Linked DNA regions of Homo sapiens: region 1 is linked to region 2. The links come from fine-mapping of genetic effects on gene expression. A gene starts in region 2. The other region holds a variant in brackets. All regions are shown on one strand. Distances are from middle to middle.

Evidence for each region.
Region 1: its variant is fine-mapped to the expression of NALF2 in breast (GTEx, PIP 0.96).

What each region holds. Positions count from the first base shown.
Region 1 is chrX:70,225,085-70,233,555 of GRCh38, forward strand. No RefSeq gene overlaps it. Among named protein-coding and RNA genes, the nearest start is that of AWAT1, 5.3 kb to the right of the region's middle. The variant C/T (reference allele first, on the strand shown) is at 4,396.
Region 2 is chrX:69,500,853-69,509,323 of GRCh38, forward strand. NALF2 (NALCN channel auxiliary factor 2) reads left to right here and starts at 3,474. Exons shown (of 3, transcript NM_015686.3): 1 at 3,474-5,291. The coding sequence starts at 4,431. RefSeq lists a silencer at 4,427-4,600 and an enhancer at 5,532-6,031.

The DNA of each region.
Region 1 (8,471 bases), 720 kb after region 2:
TTCATTCAACAAATATTATTGAGCACCTACTATGTGCCAGGCATTGTCAACAGCCCTTCAGATACATCAGTGAACAGATCAAAGCATATTGTTTAGACTTAGGGAGATAATCACCAGAATTAATACCAAAATGAGTTAAAATTATTTTCCCTTAGGAAGTGGAGACAGGGTTAGATAACTGTTCCTTTTCATCATAAACCCTCTGTACTATTTTATTTTTTATCACTTGAATTTATTACTTTGTTAGAAATTTAAAAGAGAAAACATTGTAACAAAATAAAAGTTACTTTATAAATTTTCTTTAAATCCCTACTCTCAGAGGAGCATTTTATTTAAAACTATGCCTTTGTTCTCACTTATAAGTGGGAGCCATATGATGAGAACGCATGGACACAAACAGATACTGGGGCCTACTTGTGGGTGGAAGAAGGGAGGAGGGAGAGGATCAGAAAAAATAACGAATGGGTGCTAGGTTTAGTACCTGGGTGATGAAATAATCTGTACAACGAACCCCTGTGACATGAGTTTACCTATAAAACAAACCTGCACATGTACTCCGGAGCCTAAAATAAAAGCTTTTTTTAAAATAGCTATGTCTTGATTACCAGGCACCATTCTAAGTACTTTACACATATTAAATCAATTAATCATCATCATAACTTATGAATTAGGTACTCCACAGATGAGAACAAAGAAGCTCAAAGGGGTTAAGGAAACTGAGGCACAGAGAGGTTAAATTGTGCGAGATCTTTTACAGTTAGTAAAAAGTGGAGCTGGGATTTGAATCCACGTAGTCTGGCTCTGGAGGCTATGTCCTCCATACCCCACCACACATTGGTATGTTGACAGTTCCAGCACCTAACTGACAAAGGATTAATATGTGGAATATATCAAGAGCTCCTGCAAATCAATAAGAGGAAAACAACCAATAGAAAAATCAATAACAACATAGACAAGAATTTTCCAGAAGAAATATTGCTCATAAACATATGAACTGATACACCCAAACTCATTAGTAATTAAGGAAATGCACATTAAAACCACAGCAATGTAGCATCTCACACTAAACTGATTGGCAAAAATTTTAAAGTTAGTTAAAGCCAAGTGTTAGAGAAGATATGGAGCAATGTGAACTCTCACACTCTGGCAAAGGCATATACTGATACAATCACTTTGGAAAACAATCTAGTATGCTCTAGTACAATTGAATACACACAGACCATATGACCCAGCAGTTCCACTCTTAGTTATAGATCCTAGAGAAACTTTTGCACATGAGCACCAGAAGACATAAAATAGAATGTTCTAGAAGCAATGTACATAATAGCAAAAACCAATATAAATGTCCATCAATAAGAACATGGATGAATGAACTGTGGTACATCCATATTCATACAATGGAATACAAAAAGCAGAGCTGCGTATGTCAACAAAGATGAGTATCAAAATCATAGTGTTGAGTGAAAACAATCAAGTAACAGAAGAATACTGTGTGTGTGTGTGTGTGTGTGTGTGTGTGTGTGTGTGTAATGTTTCTATGTCAAAAGCAGACAAACCTAAATGTTTTATTGTTTAAGGAGACATACATATGTGATGGAACTGTAAATAAAATCAAGGGAATAATAGACAAACACATCAGTTACTCATGGTAGGGGAGGGCACGGGGGAATGAGAACAGGGACAGGCACACAGGGGCCTTAGAAACTACTGGTAGCATCTATTTCTTAAGTCAGATGCATATATGTATGTATGTGTGTCTTGTTTTTCTGAACCATTTCAAATTTAAAAACAACCATAACCGTGCTGTCCACATAAAACATGTATACATGTATACATGTACATATGCATATATGTACAGAGAGATAAATATGCACAATATTAATTGTTGAATTTGAGAGGTAGATGATATACAGTTGTTTATTATACTATTCTTTCAACCTTCCTGTATGTTTGAAGTTTTTTCTAAAAATAGTTGGAGAAACTAAATTTGAAGGCCTTTAGAAGGAACACGCCCTCTCTGGGTCAACATACTCCCCACCATTCCTTGTTACAACTCTCAGCCTGGTTCCCTCATCTCTATATCTCTGATCCCTAGAGACATTTGAGTTTGCAACCTCTGGCTCAGCTTGTAGGTCTTGACTCCTTCTAGGTCTCCCTGCCTCCTCTATGTAACAGGTCACAGCTTTGGGGCATAAAAGATGTTTTTCTCATTCCCAGAGGTTGAATAAACCATACACTAAGTTTAGTTTAGTTTTGAGAACATATTAAGGACAATAAAAGTTTATGTAATTCCCCACTACCCTGCAGTGAAGGGTATCCCTCTCTGCCCGCAGCCCCAGCAGCTACAGTAACTTTGGCAAGCATGCCATCTCTTAGAAGATAAAGACGAAGCCTTGGAAACATCAAGCCACACCAGCTACTTCTCCCAGAAGATAAGATGAAAAATTTTATGATTCTTTTTTTTTTTTTCAGATGGCGTTTCGCTCTTGTTGCCCAGGCTGGAGTGCAATGGCGTGATCTCAGCTCACTGCAACCTCCGCCTCCGGGTTCAAGTGATTCTCCTGCCTCAGCCTCCCGAGTAGCTGGAATTACAGGCGCCCACCACCATGTCCAGCTAATTTTTTGTATTTTTAGTAGAGATGGGGTTTCACCATGTTGGCCAGGCTGGTCTTGAACTCCTGACCTCAAGTAATCCACCTGCCTCGGCCTCCCAAAGTGCTAAGATTACAGGTGCGAGCCACCACGCCCAGCCCAGTTTTATGATCTTGATGTCCCTTGTAGTCTCTCTGACACCAAAGGTGAAAAGAGTGGGAAACTAAGATCTTCCAGAAACATCGAGGGGCCAATGGGGTTAACTACTTATGAAGGATATAATGTATGAGATGAATGGCTGTTACCCAGTGGGCACAGGCAGCCATTCCTGGACTTGAGAATGAATGAGAAAGAGTCCCTGGTGGGTGCCTAGGCCCCGGAGAGTTTGCAGCCAATAAACCATTGCCCTTCAGACTGATGGGTTCTCAGTCCCTCACAGTTCAGTCATGTTGGAGAAACGGAAGCAGCTTGCCAGATAGCATTTGCCTAGCCACATTCTGTGATATGAGAGATTCTTTGCACACCATGGTTTTCACTCCTGCAGCTATCACACTGCATTAAATCCTCGATCTTTGCTGCCCCTACCTTGGCTAGTTATACACACACACACACACACACACACACACACACACACACACACCCTACAGCATGAATTCATCCAATTGTTTTGCACAAAAACATGTTTAAAATGAAAAGGCAGAAAGCCAGAGGCAGGTAGGGTAACTTGGGTATAAGCTGAGGTTAGCCAGTGACACTGCATGACAGCTTGGCCCAGCATGTCAAAGCAGGTGTGACAATGGCAAGACTCCTGTCTGATTGTTCTAATCATCCAGACAGAGAGACCAAGATCACTTGCCCTTTTGATATCCACTAACCTTTGACCTAGGACTAGGCCTGGGTGGTTTCCACTGGCTTTGCCGCTTTTTGGAGTGGCCTTCCCTCTTGGTTTATTTTTGCCTTGACCTCCCTACTTGCTGACCTTCCAGATCTTAGAACATCAAGTTGTGTCTTGATACCTAGATCCTCATATGACCAAACATTGGCTTAGGAGAATGTTGACACCTCTTCATCCTCCGTGACCTATTTTAGCTATTTGCTGCCCACATCCTATTATGACAGAACTCACTTGAGAGTTTGAATCTGCTCTGATGAATGCTTACAGGCCAGGGACTGAAGATAAGGGAAAGAAGAATTCTATTACCAAAGCTGTAGCATCAAGAAGATACCTTCAGCTCTCAGAGAAGAAAGCGAAGACCAAGGCCAGATAACTAGCGGCTAACTTGTGATCCAGGGGCAAGACAGTACTTTACATGTGTAGTGCTCGAGAGGGAAATTCCAACTGGAAAAACCTGGATCAATAAAGGTAGGTAGGTAGGTAGGTAGATAGATAGATAGATACACAGATACATAGATACATAGATACATGGATACATAGATAGAAAAGAAGGACATTCATAAAACAATGAAAGTATGTCATTCGCCAAGGATTACGATTACTACAATTTCTTGATGTCACATTAAGAAAACAAAAACAAAAGGAAAGGATCATGTCCTTACTAACAACCAGTTCTCCACATTCCCAGGTTTTCTTTTAGCTATTACTTTTTTAAAAATATGTCATTCAGGAAGGGTGGCCAGGACCACCCAGATACCAAGAAAATCCCTGGATGCCCCAGACATTCTGGCCTAGGAAATTGTAAAACACTAATCATTAGTTCAGGTGAGCTGACTGAATTTTTCTCAAAAGGAAAACAAAACAATAGAAAAGCCTAGAAGCCAAGACACTGATGAAACAACAGATTT[C/T]TTACCTAGTTTGTCCTGGGTACAGGCTGACCTCAGTGATGGGACTTACAAGTCCCATTTTTCCAGGCTTCACCTCAGCCCTGGACTTAGCTTGCATTTATTTAAACATTTCCTCAATTTAACTGAGGTGAATCCAAACAACAGCCCTGCCAGGTCTAGTAGGATACTGTGGGCCTTCATGAAACCTGCTGTCTTGGACAATTTTGTGTTGCCATAACAGAATACTACAGACTGGGTAATTCACAAAGAAAATAAATTTATTTCTTCTAGTTCTGGGGTCTGAGATGTCCAAACTTAAGGGGCCTGCGTCTGGTGAGGGTCTTCTTACTGAGTCATTCCATGGTAGAAGGCAGAAGAGCAAGAGCGAGAGCAAGAAAGCGCCAAACTCGCTTTTATAATGAATCCCCTCTTGTGATAAAGAACCTACTCCCATGATAACTAGCCCCTTCCTGTGATAATGACATTAATTATCCCTTAAAGGCCCACCTCTTAACAGCATTGTATTTGGAATTAAGTTTCTAACACATGAACTTTGGGGGACACATTCAGACCATAGCTATGCTTCCTGAGTTGTTTGGAGAAGAAAATCAAGCCCTTTGTTCAGACATGGTCATCTCCTTGGAGAGAGAGGCTGATTCTGCTAACCTGGCTACCTGGTCCCTGGAACCTACCCAGGTTGATGGAAGCTTAAGAATGCATTTCACAGGCCGGGCGTGGTGGCTCATGCCTGTAATCCCAGCACTTTGGGAGGCCAAGACGGGTGGATCAGTTGAGGTCAGGAGTTCAAGACCAGCCTAGCCAACATGGTGCAACCCCGTCTCTACTAAAAATACAAAAATTAGCCAGGTGTGGCGGCACACACCTGTGATCCCAGCTACTCAGGAGGCTGAGTCAGGAGAATCACTTGAACCCAGGAGGCAGAGGTTGCAGTGAGCCGAGATCATGCCATTGCACTCCAGCCTGGGGCACAAGAGCGAGACTCTGTCTCAAAAAAAAAAAAAGAAAAAAGAATGCATTTCACTTTCTGTACCACTAACTCCTAGGAAGTGCTGGGGGAGAGGACACAGCATTGCCATTGAGAAGGCTCCAAGTATAGGAGGGTTTCTGATCAGTGACATTTCACCTACCATTAAAAGAGCTAAAGATCTGACCAGAGTGTGAAAGAGACATGTCTAAAAATAAGTGCTTCCTCCATAATAGGAGATTGGTTAAATGAATTATAGCATATCCATACAATGAAATGCTATGTATAATGTTACAGAAGAAGATTGACATGAAAAATGTCCACGATATACTTTTGGGTGAAAAAGCAGGTTACAAAATGGGACATAGAATATAATCCCATTTTGGTTAATATATATAGTAACTAACATGTATCGAGCTTTTAATATGATCATATATATGAGCAAGGCACTGATCAAAATGCTTCACATGAATTATTCTAACTTCTTGACAACTCTGTGATGTGGGTATTATAAGTATCTTTTTACTTATGAGGAAACGGAGGCACTAAGAGATTAAATCATCTGCCATAGTTCACTTAAGTGGCAGAGCTGAGACATAGACTTAGATATGTTGGACTCAAGAGCCCGAACTCTTAACAGGGACTCTATACCTATGCTTATATTTGTATAGACAAAAAGTCAAGAAAGATAGATACCAGGATGTTAACAGTTAACAGTGGTCATTTCTGGGTAGTGAGATTATGAATGACTTTTGTTCCCTTTATACTTTTCTGAGTGCTCTGAAAATTTTATGATTTACATGGATTATTTTCATAATCAGAAAAAAAAGGAAATAAATTTCCGTTTTGGAAAAAAGCAAGAAAGCCATTGTTTCCAACCTGGAGGTGCAAACCTCTGAGGAGTGGAGGAGTAACTTAATTATTACAAGGACTCCAGAAACCTCTACCTGACCCGAGCATTGTTTAGAATGAATAAATAATATGCTTACAGCACACTTTTCTTTCAAATGCATATAAATACTGTCATGATGTATATACATAGTGGCTTTAGTTTGTTACGTATTATCATGTGGAGATCCATGGCATTGTAAACGTTAAAGTACTAAGGCAATGGTTGGGATCTAGTGCTAAAAAGAAAAATATATATACAGGTCAACTCTCTTAGCTTGAAGGTCTTCTCAACAACTTACTTACTTTTTTTTCCAAGGGAGGCAGGAGGAAATAGAGGAGAAAAACTGAGAATTCACATATTATTAAAAGTTAACCCAGGAGGCTTGCTTCCTGGAGAAGACAATTTACAAGGATGAGAGAGTATGAAGAGGGAGTTGGTGTAGGCCCAGGATATTCTATTCTGGAAAGACAGAGTGCTAATCTCCCCCATATTATCAGGGGCGAGTTTCCAACCTCAACCACAGGATGTCAACACATCGATAGGGCAGTGGTGCCGTAAGACCTGAGTGCTAACATTTGCTCTAGAGCCAGGCTGGTTTCCAGTAAACAGGAAGACCTGGAGTGGGAGGGCAAAGTAGGCAGAACTTTTTCTTTTGCCAAAGTGCCTCAAAGGTGAGCGTCTGCCTTCCTTTCTCTCATTCTTTCTTCTCCCCTTTTGTAATGTGTTCCTTGTCTTGTTTCTGTATGGCCTCTCATCCCCCACTCAAGTCCCCGGGACATATGCCCCCATAGGACTCTAGTGATCTCATTACCCGTAAGAAATCATCCAATCATAGACCCCAAACTAAGATCCTCACTTACTGATCCTTCTCTTAACGCCGAGGCCCTAGGGCTTTCAGGCATTAGGAGCAGATATACTGACAAATAAGATATGGTCCCAATCTCTTTAGAAGCATGTAAACTTCAGGTGGAAAAAGCAAAAAACAAAACCAAAAACCACACACACACAACCACGTTTGCTTTAATGGGCATAAAGTTACAACAAGAGTTCAAGAGAGAAATGAGGGCTTTGCTTCCCCCCTCCCACGTTGGCCTGTATTTGAGACTCACCTAGGAATCACACTCCACACCCCAACCCTGCTCACAGAAGCTTGGAAGACTGGCTTACTCCAAAGAAAAACAGTCTTCACTAAGTCAGTGGCATGGGAAAAAAAGGAGGGGAGGAAGGGAGATTGTTCTATATTAAAAGAAAATTAAGATCTTGACAAAGGGATCAAATCTGAATCACTATAGTCTTTGAATCCAGCTATCAATCTGCAAGAAATACAGAGGAACATGCTGAAGCACCCTAAGTAAGTATGAGATAAGCAAAATCCAAACTGTGGGAAATTCTACAGGTCAAATGCTGTGGGTTCTTCAATAGCTAAAGCATAAGGAAAGGAAAGGGATGGAGGGGGAACCGACTTAAACTCTTCAAAAGCACCAAAGTCATGGAAGTCACGGAAAGACCGAGAAACTAACCCAATCTGAGTATGTGGTTAAAAAATAATAATAAAATAAAATAAAAACAGAGACACTGTCAAAGGAGGAGGAGACAAAGGAGAGATGATGATTAAATGCAATGTGAGATTCCAATGGGATCCTGGGACAGAAAATGGACATTTGTGGAAAAAAATTGATACAATACAAATAAAACCTGGTGTTTAGTAAATATAAATGCACCAATATTGGTTTCTTAGTTGTGATAAATATACCATTGTTTTATAAGATGTTAACATAAAGGGGAAGCTACACGAAGGGTGTAGGGAACTCTCTGTACTATCTTTGCAACTCTCTCATAAATCTAAAAGTATTCCAAATTAAAAAGTAAAAATGGCCAGGTATGATGGCTCATGCTTGTAATCCCAGCACTTTGGGATGCTGAGGTGGGAGGATTTCTTGAGCTCATGAGTTCAAGACCAGCCTGGGCAACATGGTGACACCCCATCTCTACAAAAAATAAAAAATTAGCCAGGCGTGATGGTGCGCACCTGTGGTCCCAACTACTCAGGAGGCTGAGGCTGGAGGATCACTTAAGCCTGGGAGATTGAGGCTGCAGTGAGCTGTGTTTGCGCCACTACACTCCAGCCTGGGTGGCAGAGTAAGATCCTGCCTCAAAAAAGAAAAAAAACCATAAAAAAGAGAGAGAGAAAACTTCAAGGACATATCAATATTTAAAATG
Region 2 (8,471 bases):
AAGCTGCGCTTTAGCCATCCTGACACTCTTCTTACAGATTCACCCTTAATTACATGCCCTTCTTTCCATCTTTTTCCCCCATGACCTTTTAAGATCTGAGCTTAACAGAAAGCTCCTGATGCAACCACACTGGTCACTTTAAACAGCTCCCACTTTGTCTTCTTCCTAATTGTCAGCATTTCACTGCAAGAAACCTTCCCCTTCTCCCTCTCCCTCAAGTTGTCTTCCCCTCTGCCTGGTTTGAGGGCACTCTATTGCTCTTCTTGTTCAGTCTGGGCCCCCTCAGGAGTGACCCGCCTCCATCCCCTGGCTTTAGCCTCCACTAACCCGGGAGCAGGTGGAAAGAAAGGGCTGAGAAGAAGGACTGGCCAGGGCCCACCAGCTCTGGGGGAACAGCGGGCCACTCCAGTTCCCCTCCCCACCTTGGCTATTCTGCTCCAGGGGCCGATTAAGGCCAATGCCTTCCCTTCCCCCATCCCAATTTCTTGGGTCATCTGAAGTTAGAGAATGAGAGCCTCTTCTGACTGTTGGTTTGCTAGCACTTCTTCTTTGTGTGCAGCGGGAACTGTCTGGGTAAGTTATTGTTATATTGTGCTCCTGTGATAAATGGACCTTTGTGAGACACTTTTCACCCTGTGTGTGCTTGGGGAGAGGGAGGGAGTCTTGCCTGAGTGACTTCTCACAGAAAGCTCCAGAGGTGCTCAGAGCTGATAGCCTAGACCTGGCAGGCTGCTCTTTCATTGGCAGTCAAGGGTGTCAATCACTGTGGCCCTGCCAATCAGCTCCGAACTAGGTATCTGTAAGCGATTAGCTTTCTTTGTTAGAACACTGAACCCTCCAAGGACTAAACAAAGAATGGCTCAGGAAAGACAGTTCCTAGGTGGGCAGGGGCAGTCGTGCCAGTGTCACTAACTGGAACTCTTTGGTTTCATCCTCTTTCTAGCCCTGCCTCCTAGCTCCTTTCAATTCTACTTCTTTCATTTCCCTCCCATGTGCATTTATTTTCTCTGTCTCCACTGCTGCTGCCTTTGTTCAGCCCTCCACACCTCTCACCTGACTACTAACCAGTCTCCCAACTAGTTTCCCTGCCTGCCGTCTCACTCCCTCCAATCCAGTCTCCATGCTGCAGTCAAATCAATCTTCTAAAAATACAAGTCTGATCGTGTCACCTCCTGCTGAAAACCTTTCGGCCTGTTCCATGGCTCCTAGTGCCCTTGGGATAAAGTCCAAACTACTTAGCATGGCACCCAGGGCCCTTCATGATTTGGCTCCTGCCAAATCCTCAGCCTCATTTTGGCAGTGCTCCCACTTCACACCTAGTCATGATGAACTACTTTGCAGGTTTCTGAACGTACCATTCCTGGCGTTACTTCTGGTCCTTTACACATAACATTCCCACTGCCTGGGACATCCTTCACACACCGCCTTCTTTGCTACCTGTCCAGCCGGTCCTTACTCATCCCTTAAGGTTTCAACTAAACTCCTTCAGCTCAAGACACATATTTTACTCATGTCTATATTGCTGATGCCTAATACAGCATCTAGAATGTAATAGATCCTCAATAGATGTTTGACAAAGGAATGAATCAATGAATGAATGACTCAACTCCAGCGGCTGTGTGCAGAATCATCTCTGAGGGAATCTGGCAAAGTTGACTGGTCCCTCCCTCTATGGGAGGGACACCTACCATCCTTATTGCACTAGGTTGCAATTTCTTCTTTAACATGTCTGCCTCTCTAATTCAACTGTGAGCACCTCAAGGGCAGGGCCGTCTGATTCACCGCAGTATCCTACTTAGCCCCTAGCACAGTGCTTGTAACATAATGAATAAATAGGCCTCCCAAATGCCTGACAGTTTTGTCCCTTGTCTCATTTCCTGCTACTCCCTTCCCCACAAATTCTCACCATCAATATAGCCAAACTGCCACACTCGTGGCTTCACAAACATACAAAGCTGCTCCCTACCCCTGAAACTTTTCATCTGCATTCCTTTTATTTGGAATGCCCTTCTCAACCACCCACCCTAATCCTGCTACTTTAGAAACTAGCTCCATTTGTCCCTCTTCCAGAAACCTTTTATGTACCCACCCCAGTCCACCTCTGAGTAGTGCTAACGATGCCCACCCATTTCATTTGATCCTTGGCATCCCTTCGTGTTACTCAGGGGAAAACCAAGACTCAGAAAAGGAAAAGACTCTCAAGGGTACACAGCATATCAGCAGTTGAGTTATTTATCCAAGGCTCTAGTTCATGAATCCTCCCACTAGCCAATATACATGTCTTGTTTCCTTATATAGACTATAATTTCCTTTAAGGAAGGAATGCCTTGGCTCTTTCATCTTTCCAGGGCCTTACTGGAGTGTTAAGAGAATTCTAGAGTCAGACTGAGTTTCTTTTTTAGCTGCTCTGGTTACTTTAGGCAACAACCACACTAAACCTCAGCTTCTTTGTATGTAAATGAAGATAACAGTAGTACCTATCTCATAACACTGTTGTGAAGATTGGATGACGAATGCATGCAAAATGTATAGAGCAGTACCTAGCACATAGTACGCGCTCAATTAAGGCTATTTTCTTTATTGTTATTCTTAACATTAACAAATGCTTGCCGGCAACGGTTGACAAAAAATTACAATGTGAGTTACTGGGAGTGAGGAAGGCAAGCAGACCACAGGGTCAGTGGAGTCCAAACAAGGTTAGTGGCGCGTCAGGATGTTTGTACGTCCGAATTCCTAGTGCCATGTGACTCTGTGAGGGCCCAAGCACATGGTTCCATCCGGGCGGCGCAGCTTCTCTAACTCTCAGTCAGCTATTCTCAGCAGCCTGTAGGGGGAGCCAAAAAGCTAGGACGGGGGCTGGTGCTTGGGTGGGGGGCGGGCGGGTGGGGGGTGGAGGCTGCTGGAAATATTCCTAAGGGCAAACACCGACACCCCACCACTACTATCTTAGCCCACCGCCTTGCCCCCTCCAGGACGCTCTCCAAACTCAGTCTTCCTCAGCAGCTAAGCTGGGAGCTGTCCTTCAGCACCAAGGGCCGCCTTGTCCTCGGGCAGGACGGTGAGGGCGAAGGTGGAGTTAGGGACACTGGACTGGTCCGATCCGCAGCCGGCTCGAGCGTCTTCCAGTCACGGGGACGGCGGAGGCGACCCAGAGAGGCAGCAAGCAGCTACGAGATGCCTGCTGCTCCTTGCCTCCAAGAATCACCCTCAGAAGTCCCCTAGCCCTCGGGGGAGTGAGGGACGGCCATGGAGAGGAAGGCGGGCGCCCGGGTTAGTGGGGGAGGGGGAGCGCCGAGGCCTGGGACTCAGCGTGTGGCATGTGCACGCGGGCAGCGGGCGGATGAACGGAGGCGCTGAAGTGAATGGAGTTGGGGGTGGACTGGAAACATCCCCAAACAGCACCGGCTGCGGCCGGCGGGGGCTGGGGCGGGGTGGGGTGGGGGGAGTCCTGAGGCGCAGGCGCAGTCGGGGCACCAGTCCCGCTCCCTCCTCCTCTCCGTGCCTCTTTCTCCGCCCTGCTCCCCGCCAAACACACTTGCACAGGGGCTCTCAAGGTGTTCTCCGCACAGCGGAAGATGGCGACAGACTGAGGGTGCATGGCCAGCGGGAGCCACGGGGCCGTGCCGCTGGGCTGCAGCCACAGCGGTGCGAACGAGAGGCGGAAGCGAGAGGCGCACTAAGTAAAGCCCGGTGTCTGCGTCCGGCGCCTGTGGCGCTGCCGGGAGCCAGGTGGCCCGCCCGAGCCGGAACTCCAGGAGCAGCGGGTGCGGAGCCAGAGCGGAGCCCGCCAGGGACTGGCCCCGGCGAACACCCGGAGCGCGAACGAAGCCCGAAGGGCCCGGCAACGGACCGGCCGGCCGGCCTAGGAGGGCGCGAGCGAGGCAGGGAGCGGCGTGGAGCGGGCAGCGGGCGGACGGGCGGGAGCGGAGCGGCGCGGGGCGAGGGGAGCGGAGCGGAGCGCGGCGGCGGGGCCCGCACGGCGGCGCTGAGGGGCGCAGAGCTGCGCCGAACCGAGACGGCCGGTTTGGAGTGCGAGCCGGGCGGCCGCCGGCGCGGAGTGAAGTGGCACGGAGCCGAGGGCAGCTGAGGGGCCCGACACTATGAGGAGTGCGGCGCCGCCGCCGCAGCCGCCACCGCCCCAGTGCCCCGCACCGCCCCCAGCCGGGACGCCGGGCAGCGCCTAGCGGGCCGGGCGGCGGCGCCCGGGCTGAGAGCGACGGAGCGCGGGAGCGGCGCGGAGACGGCACCAGAGCGCCCCGCGACTCCGGCCTGAGCGGGGCATCGCGCCGGCCGGCCTGCCTCACCATGCAGCCCCCGAGGTAGAGCCTGGACGGCGCCGAGGAGCGCAGAGCGGCGCGCAGCCCGCCCGCCCCAGACGGCCGTCTGGCCTCGCGCCTGCCTGTTCCCTCCAGCCCGGACCCCCCTGAAATATGTTCAGGGGCGCTTGGATGTGGCCCGGGAAAGACGCCGCCGCGCTGACTATCTGCTGCTGCTGCTGCTGCTGGGCTCCCAGGCCGAGCGACAAACCTTGCGCCGACTCCGAGCGGGCGCAGCGATGGCGACTGTCCCTGGCGTCCCTGCTCTTCTTCACCGTGCTGCTCGCTGACCATCTGTGGCTGTGCGCGGGGGCCCGGCCCCGGGCCAGGGAGCTGAGCAGCGCCATGCGGCCCCCATGGGGGGCCGGCCGGGAGCGGCAGCCGGTGCCTCCTCGCGCGGTGCTGCCGCTGCCGCCGCCGCCGCCCGGCGAGCCCAGCGCGCCCCCAGGCACCTGCGGCCCCAGATACAGCAACCTGACCAAAGCCGCCCCCGCCGCCGGCTCTCGGCCGGTCTGCGGCGGCGTCCCAGAGCCCACGGGGCTGGACGCAGCTTGCACCAAATTGCAATCTTTGCAGAGACTTTTCGAACCGACTACTCCGGCCCCCCCTCTGCGGCCCCCTGACTCCCTTTCCCGTGCCCCGGCCGAGTTCCCCTCCGCCAAAAAAAACTTGCTCAAAGGCCACTTTCGGAACTTCACTCTCTCCTTTTGCGACACCTACACGGTCTGGGACTTGCTGCTGGGCATGGACCGCCCCGACAGCCTGGACTGTAGCCTGGACACCCTGATGGGGGACCTGCTGGCCGTGGTGGCCAGCCCGGGCTCCGGGGCCTGGGAGGCGTGTAGCAACTGTATCGAGGCGTACCAGCGGCTGGACCGACACGCTCAGGAAAAATATGACGAGTTCGACCTCGTGCTGCATAAATACTTACAGGCGGAAGAGTACTCAATCCGGTCCTGCACGAAAGGCTGTAAGGTAAGGACTGGCTTCCGCAGCCACAGCAGCCGCCCTGGGCAGCGGCAGCGGCCGCAGTGGGACCGGGAGAAAAAAGGAAGTCTCCCTTTCTACCCACCCCACCACTCCCACCGTGCCCAGTGCAGCACTACCAGTGCCACCCTGGGACCTTCCCTAGTGAAGAGGCCTCAGGGATTCAGGTCAGGTAACCACCTGGCTAACTTCTATTAATTCCGGGTTTGGGCACCTTAGGCCTGGGGCTTCCTGGCGCCCTGCTCCCTCATGAGTGGGGAGGGGCCGCAGGGCCCTGGGCTGACAATGAGGTGGCAGGAGGGATTGTGCTCCCCCCAGCCTCCATCCTCAGCCAGCCATGCCCCTCTCCTTTCAGAGGCTGGAACTGAACGTCCTGGGACTGGCTGGTGCAGGGGGAAGGCCAAAGATGGGAGGAAGAATATTTGGCAACCAAACCCTCACCCTTTGGCTTCTGCCAGTGGGTGAGAGGACGAGCACTCCTGGTGGTGGGGCACACCACACACTTGACCTTATGTGACCTGAGGTGACTGGCCAGAGCCGAGGCAGGTCGAGCCCAGGGGCTGCCTGTCTTCTCCCAAGGAAGTCACCTGCAGGCTCTTCTCCCCTGACAAAGGAAGGAGCTGGGAACAGGGAACAGCGACTGGTGGGAAGGCCACTGAAGGTTAGTGCATTCTCATACAAAACTCCCAGTGCCTTCCCAGCACCCCATGGTGACAGTGGGGGGAACACTGGCTTTCTAGCTGCTGGGGATAGGTATCCAGAGGAGAGGTGAGGCAGCTGCAGACCGGCCCGCCTAGGGAAGAGCTGAGTGTTAAGAAACTTCTTGACCCTCGGCGGGGTTGCTCTGGACAGTTAGGTGGGTGAGGGCTGCAAACATTTGGGACTTGATGGTACTGCCCTGCTCGCCCAGCCTGGCCAGGTGACCTGCCTTTGGGAGGAAAGAGAACAGCAAGGTCAAAGGGTCAGATGACAAGGAGACCAGGAGGGGTGGTGGCCTCACACATCCTCGAGCTGGGGCCAAGAGCTGGAGAGTGAGACAGTTGCTTTCTAGCCTAGCTCGTGTCCCTCCAAGACTTTGGGGAGGGGCAGAAAGTGCCATTTTCCATCCAGCATGGCCCTTGTGGACTTCTGCAGGGCTTCCATGCTTTTAGCGGGTTCCCTAGGGATTGGGGCAGAGGGTTGGGAAGGAAAAGGGTAGTTCCTCGCTCCTGACTTCACTTTCTCCTTCTCCTTTTTCCTGCTCTCGTAACCTAGCAGTCTCCCTCCCGCCTCCCTCAGCCTCAGCTGACTCACTGCCTCACTCACACTACCAAATGAGATATTCCACTTCTTAAAGGTATACAGACAGATAGACACACACACTGCCATACACCATCACCACCACCCCGGGCAAAGTCACATAGGCATGCAGAGAGGTCGTCACACCCACAAACAGTGTCATTAGAAGCAGATGCCGTGTCACACACACGCACATCTCCCCATGGTATCAGAGACACGCAGGCAGAAGTACTGTCACATGAAGAAGGGCACATTTTGTCTTACAGAGACACATACCCTCGATGTCAGCCACGGACACATACACTCAGTGGGAGCAGAGAGACAGGGTCCACAAGCAGATGGAATCAAGGATGTCTGTTTTTTGTGGCCCTCCCTTCAACCCCATGGCCCTGTTTTTTGTTTGTTTGTTTTGTTTTTTTCCTCAATCACCAGTATGAATGAGAGGCATGCCACAACTTCCCCATGGGGTTTTCTCCGTGTTGTAGTTGACTCCGATTTCTGTCTGGACCTGAACTAAATACAAATCTCTCATGTTGATTGTTTTTACCAAGCAGTGTGACGTAGGAGAAATACATCTGATCTCTCCAGTTCAGGAGGCCTTATCACCTCTACTTCTTGTTAGTGGTATGACCTTGGGCAAGTCACTTCACTTCTGTAAGCTTTCATTTCCTCATTTGTAAAACAGGGATCATCATCCTTGCTCTGCCCACATCCTGGGTCTTTTGTGGGAAGAAGGTGCAGATGTATTTTGTAATAAGAATATAACATCTGACATTAATGTAATGCTTAAGGTTTTTCCGCCCCTCTCGTGTGTGTTATGAGATCAAGGAGGCTGGTGATACTAGCACCACTACTCCCATTTTACAGATGAGGAAACTCAGGTGCAAGGGGATCAAATGGTTTGCCCTAAGGTCACTCAGCTAATGAGCAGGAGTGCCAGGACTCCAGCCCACGTGTTTTGGTGCCAACCTCGTGCTTTTGCCATGGCCTCACATCAAGTTCCTGATGGCCCTCCCTCCTCTCCTTTGTCTTCTTGTCTGTCTCTCTCCAGCAAACCAGCGAACTCCTCCTGTGCTCTCGCTGCCTGCTGTGCCGGCAGAAGGGCAGTGCCAGCTCCATAGCTCTCTTCCGGCCTTTCCCACCCTTGTCCAATGCTCTCTCCCTCAACTGAGGCCAGACCCACCTGGCTCTCGAATCCAGCTGTATGATGGGCACGAAGGGAAAAGACAGCCCTGCTACCCTACTTGGACTGTAGGCTCCTCTCTCCTCAGTCCCTCACCCCACCTCCCTGGCAGGCCTTACTTGCCATTCCCAAACCCCGTTCCTGGGCTCCAAGCCCTCCTGTCTGGTCCCCACCCCAAATGGGATCCCTGCGAGATGACGCCCCACCCTCAGAGCTTCTCCTGAGTGGAGAGACCACAGCCCCAGGCCAAGATGAAGAGGCTTTCTTACTTCTAGAAACCAAGCTGGGAACCTCTGTTTCAGAGCCAGGTGACCCCCTGTCCCCAGGACCCTGTACTGAGTGCATCAGTTAGCTCTTCCCTGGGTGGCCCCAGAAACCCTGTTCTCTGCCTTTGCAATATCTGCCCCCGTTTCAGGCCACACAGGGCCCCACGAATCATACCTGTCCTCGCTGCTGCCTGTGACACCTCCCAATTTAGTACCAGCTGCAACATTTCCTTAATGTGCAACTGACTTCCTCTCACACAGCAGGGCAATGTAACTTAGGTAGGCCGATGCCCTTCCCCGCCCTGGCCTCTCCCAACTCCCAGGGTCATGCCTCACCTCTCTCTTAGCTTCCTGTGCATCCCCACAAGCCCTATTTCCTCCAACCCCCACCCCACTCTCTTGGCCATAGCTAGGGTTACTGGACAACCACCACACTCCCCC